Regions from separate parts of the Homo sapiens genome. Here region 2 is linked to region 1. Evidence: fine-mapped expression QTL. A gene starts in region 1. The other region holds a variant in brackets. All regions are shown on one strand. Distances are between the middles of the regions.

Region 1 (2,912 bases):
CACACACACACGTATATACACACACTCGTACTCAGTCACACACACTGGCACTCACTGTCATGTATACAGACACACATACACAACACGCACACACGTATACACACATACACACTCACGTTCACACACACTCGCACTCACATATATACACTTCCACTCACACTTGCACTCACACACTCCTACATGTGTATACACACTCGCAGTCACATTTGCACTCACACACTCGCTCACACTTGCACGCATGTATATACACACTCGTGTTCCCACACACTCGCACTCACATGTTTACACCACATATACACGCACTCACACACACGTATACACATGTACTCACACTTGCACTCACACATACTTGCACAGATGCCTACACGTATACTCACACATGTATACACACATGCACTCTCACTTGTACTCACCCATGTATACTCTTACACACACACACTCTCTGTTAGCCAGCCTGAGCTGAGCTCTGAGGAAGCCGCAGGGAAAGGACAGAGAGAAGGATGGAGATGGGGTCACTCACGCAGGTCTGTGCCCCGGATGTTTGTGGCCCTCAGCACCTTCACCTGGAGGTCATAGTATGGGTAGGTTTCCCGCTGCAATAACAGAACTCCAGGGACTCAGTCAGCTAGTGTGAGCCTGGTCCCTCGCCCCATTGTTCCCCTCGTCCCATCATGGAGCAGCAACCTGGCATAGGGTCACTGACGTCTCTGTGCCGGGGAGCAGGGAGACCTTGGCGGGTCCCAGGCATTGGGAGTTCAGCACCTTCGTGATGTGTCTGGACCCTGGAACCCATCCGGTCTGGGTTCAAATCTAAATCCAGCACGGACTCACTGAACTAACGATGGCTGTCACGCACCACACACCTGCAGCTCCCCTCAGACGCTCGCGCCCCCACTCTAGCTTGGGAGCAGCTGTGAGAGCTGTGCTAATGTTGTGCTTGAGAAGATTAAATATTAAAAGAGAAAACTGTGACACCCCCTCCCTTGCTTGCTCCCTGACAGAGGCTCAAAGACCGTCTAGGAGGCAGCGAGCAGGTGAGCGGAAGCCGAGAGTCACCGGCCGGCCGGTACCGGTCTGACGAGTCACCGAGCAGATTGCAGCTGGGCTTAGGAGAGATAACATCAGCATGCTGCCTACTGGGAGGGAAACTCTCCCCTCACAACCCCACCAGCTCCGTGGACTCTACAGCCAGGCTCGCGCATCCTTGGTGAAAGCCAACCCACCCCAGACAAGTGTCAAGTGAACTAACCCTCCATTTCCTAATCGGAGGGAGCTATTTTTAAGAGCCAAGGTCTAATTTAAGCTCTGCCAGGTCATCTAGAATAAACAGGTCCCACCCCAACTCAAAACCCAGGGCTGGGGCTGGTCTCAGTCTTCACAGGGCACTGCAGCTCCCAGGACTCCCCCAGTCCGGGTTTCCCAGGTAATCTCAGGTACGTTACCCGCCAGTGCCTCCACAGAGGGCCCCTCTTCTCTCTCTTCTGAAGCAGCACTGCCCCCAGGAGGGGCAGCATCTTGTCTGCCAGCCACCTTGGCCAGAGTGCCCAAAGCATGGCTGGGCAGCCCGGGCCCCAGCAGGGAACCCTGCCTGCGCTCCTCTGGTTGCACAAACTGCTGGCTCAGGTGTGACAGGCAGCACTGAGTTGGGAGGGTGGAGCTGCCTGCTCTGCAGAGAACTCAGGCTGGATGGCCTGCTGGAGGTGGAGTTTGACATGCTCCAGGAAGTGACTGGAGCTTAATTTCCCCAGGCAGGAGGCAGCTCAGTCCCTCTCCAAGAGACTCTTGGGGTCTCTGGTTAGCACTCTTGTTCCCAAACCCAGCGCCCTGGTTATCACTGGGCTGTTTGTGAAAAATAGACACCGGAGCTATTTCCAACAAGACCTCTAGGTGAAGCTGGCACAGCTGGCCCAGAGACCAGCTGGCAAGTGCAAATCAGGGAAGAGTCTCCTCCAGCTGTGGAAAAGGCCTGAAACTAGCCACCCTTCAAGTCCCACCTTCCCTGCGGCTCTTAAGCTGAAGCCTAGAAATCTCTGCTTCAGTGTTTCATCTGGGATCAAAGATGTTTCTCTCTTTATATATATTTTCTAATTATACTTTAAGTTCTACGGTACATGTGCACAACGTGCAGGTTTGTTACATGTGTATACATGTGCCATATTGGTGTGCTGCACCCATTAACTCGTCATTTACATTAGGTATTTCTCCTAATGCTATCCCTCCCCCATGCCCCCTGCCCCCCGACATGCCCCGGTGTGTGATGTTCCCCGCCCTGTGTCTAAGTGTTCTCATTGTTCAATTCCCACCTATGAGTGAGAACATGTGGTGTTTGGTTTTCTGTCCTTGCGATAGTTTGCTCAGAATGATGGTTTCCAGCTTCATCCATGTCCCTACAAAGGACATGAACTCATCAAAGATGTTTTTAATCTCTCCTGACCACCCTCATTAATTCGCCAAACACCAAGAGCCTGGTGGGTGCCAGACCTGTGCTAGGCCCAGAAACGCAAAGGTGACAGAGGTGAGGCGGGCCCATCCACATCCTGGAGAAATTCAGTCTCATGACTCCCTGTGGCTTTGGCCCAGGCTCGCTTCCTGGGTCAGTGTACAGTGTCCAGGTACAGACAGGCATATGGGCAGGGGGTTATAAATAAGGACAGGCCAAACAACAAGTCTACGTATCCTTCAGCGACCAGATATACAGGCTTTAGCATTCTCTTTGGCCATCGTAGGCCTTAGGCTGCAGATGGATGTGATGTTCGCTCTTCTGTGGACCACAACCATCAAGGTGGCTGAGACAGGCACAGTCTCCAGGAAGAGTGAGGATCTCGGGGGCCGTGAACTGTGGGAGGGAGAGAATTTCTGTCCCTCAACTAAGATTCAGTCATCTCCACTCTTCCCAAGGCCTAGAGTCACAG
Region 2 (2,912 bases), 35 kb before region 1:
ATTAACTTCATTCAATCTAGGCACAGCTTTTCCAGGATTCTGGCTGGTCACAATTTGTGGGAACATTTACAGGAGAAGAGTTAGTGGAATGAACTACAGCCCACACCACCACAGTTTGTCTCAATCTGTCACTGATACTCATCATCTTCCTCCTCCACCACCCACTCTAGGTTCTCTTGCCTCTCAGCGAGCACTCCTGCTGCTCTCTGTGGCTCTCAGGAGGGGTGTTCCAGACCTTTATCTCAGAGGAGTCTGAAGCTCAAGTTATGCTTTACTCAGACCATGGTTGCTATATTTACCCATTTTTACATGCAAAATTTCACATAGAAAAAAGCAAACCCAGGATCACCTGAGTGCCAAACATATTCCTCCCTGCCCCCATCATCCCACTGTATAGCAGCAGCTCTGTGTCTTCCTGATGATCAGATCAATTACCCCTGCTGGAGCTGTAACCCCTTCCTTTGCCTGCTGATCTACCAGCATGAGGAGGCCAAAGTGGCCAGGCTGCAGCCATAGCTGTAAGATTATTGGGACTCCTATGGCGTCCTCCAATAGAAGCATTTCCCGCTCCTGCCCCCAGGAACCAGGAGCTCTAGACCCACAGAGTCTAAAGTTTCTGTGAAGAGAAGCATAAATTCCCCAGGTGGGTCACTTAGAATAGTGATGAGCAGAGCCACTCCTACTTCTACCGCTTGGACCCTGGACCATCCATTCTACCTAGTGGGGACAAATGCACATGCAATGGCCATTGGCTTCAGATGTGTATTGCATCCTGAAGATAGCACACTATCCCCAAACTAGCTCCTCCATGCATCTTCAGGAGGCCATCTCGCCACTCTATTGGGCAATAGTTGGTGGTTGATGTGATATGCACCACACTGCCTCCCTTACTCTAAGTTGCTGTTATGCACAGTCATATGTAGATTAGACATTGTGTAAGTCGTTGGATTGTCGTGCTTGCTGAGGTGCAGGAAGCCGGAAAGGTAATCCACATACAGAATGTGTGTCCATTTCAGTAAGTATGAATTGTCCTTTTCAGGACAGAAGGGGTCCTGTATAATCAGCTTGCCATCAGCGGTCAGTTGAGCTCCTGGGTGCCTTATTGCAGACTCGGTGTCAGTCTTTGCAGCTGGCAGGTTCGACAATCAGCAGTGTCAGTAGCTAGGTCAGTCTTGGAATGGGGATCCTATGCTATTGGACCCCTGTACTGCCTCCATCTCTGCTCCATTTGGGAGCACAAACATTAAGATGGCTGAGGACAGGGCTGATTGACAACCACTGGACGATCCATCCCACTCATCTGGTTGTTCAGTCCTTCTGCGAGTGGTCAGCACTGTCATTAGCATAAA[G/C]ATGCTCACCCTTTGTGCCTACTCCCGAAAGGGCTCAGCTGCACTGCAGACTGGGCAGAATAGGCCAAGTGACAGGCCAGCCCTGGTACTGGTGACTAACAGCCTGCTGGACCTCCCTGCCCTAGTCCTGAGCTTGAGCTCTGCCGGCTGGCTCTGGGCCTGGCCCTGGAGGGGTCCACAGGTTGCAAGAAGTACCTTGTGCAATCCACACTGGAAGCCTGTCCTCACCCAGATCAGGGTGGAGCTGAGGGGGCCCTCAGGGTTTCAGGGCCTGGGTGTAACAGCAGCCAGTCAGATCAGGGTAGATACACACAGATACACACACACACACACACACACACACACACATATTATCCCTGGGGCTCAGCCCAGCTCACTCTGGAGGCTGAAGGCACTCCTGTCAGCCCTGTATCTGGCTTCATTGGAAGTTTCCCAAATGCAAAGACTTTTTGTTGTTGTTGTTGAACTCAGGCCCCTTACTTTCTCCACATTCATGCCTAAAACACAAGATGCGAAAAAAAAAAGCCAAGTGCTCAAAGGCATACGGTAGTATGGTGGCTAATTCTTTGGGTGTTGGAATTAAAAAAAAAAAAAAAGCCCTGAGTTTGAGTTCAAGGTATGGCTTTGTCACTTTTGACTTTAATGTTCTTGGATAAATAACAATTCTCTGAGCCTCAGTCTCTACATCTATAAAACATGAATAATATTACCTCCCTCACAGAATTGTGAGGATAAAGGAAAACACATATGTAAAATGTTTGACACAAAACAAGTATTCAACAGAGGCTATATAACAATATTATTAAAAACAAGAGTTTGTGATAAAATAGGGAACACAGAGAGAAAACCCAAAATAAATGCAGAAGACAGAAAGAAATGGGAAACACCGAAGACCCTGTGGCAAGCATGAAAATCAGACCTCCTTCAAAAGAACCTGCTGCAGGCTTATAGTGACCACCAGTCCCTGGCCACCCTCTGGAGCTATCACTGCGTTCACACCAAGGCCACGCTTTCTTGAGTTACTCCTAGCCAAAGACAGAACGTGGTGGGGCACTAGTGTCTGCCCATTCCTGTGGGATATGGGACCCCTCTAATGGGCAACTATGGCTCCAGGACTCCCATCAGCCGGGCTGGAATTTTCTTAGAACTGAGTCTGAGGCCCTTCCTTCCATCGCCCCTTCCTTCCCTGTCTCCTTTCATAGGTGTCCAAATGGTATTACAATCTGAAGGCTCTCCTGCCCCTTTCCTTCCTCATTCACAGGTGTTTACTTTAACAAGTCTCTGGCACAAATAATCCCATCTTGGCCACTTTAGAGCACCTGAACTAACACAGGCCCCTTCCCTAATGCTGGGCTTTCTTAGAGGGAGGGTCCTGAGAGGATCTGTCCCAAATCTGTGTTGTGCACCACCTGGGTGAGGGCAGCCGCAGTTCCAGGTTGACATGAAATTCTTAGATCATGGAGCTTGAATGGGAAACAGGAAGTGAGTGTCCTTGGGACATGCTATGATGCCTGATGGTTCATGTTCCTCTCTGTACCTGAAGTCGCCCCTCAGATTAAGCAA

Direction of the effects. Positions count from the first base shown, and alleles are read on the strand shown. Sizes are in standard deviations (SD) of each study's normalised expression.
With allele C in place of G in region 2, the expression in esophagus mucosa of the gene that starts at base 1,640 in region 1 is higher (small effect, 0.23 SD a copy in GTEx).

What was found. PIP is the estimated chance that this variant, and not a neighbour inherited with it, causes the effect. A credible set is the group of variants that fine-mapping cannot tell apart.
Region 2: its variant is the best candidate, but not a certain one, in a credible set for the expression of PLA2G4F in esophagus mucosa (GTEx, PIP 0.53).

What each region holds. Positions count from the first base shown.
Region 1 is chr15:42,154,997-42,157,908 of GRCh38, forward strand. It overlaps PLA2G4F (phospholipase A2 group IVF), which reads right to left and starts at 1,640. Exons shown (of 20, transcript NM_213600.4): 1 at 1,443-1,640; 2 at 521-593. The coding sequence starts at 1,553. RefSeq lists an enhancer at 1,365-2,080.
Region 2 is chr15:42,120,337-42,123,248 of GRCh38, forward strand. No RefSeq gene overlaps it. Among named protein-coding and RNA genes, the nearest start is that of PLA2G4D, 27 kb to the left of the region's middle. The variant G/C (reference allele first, on the strand shown) is at 1,350.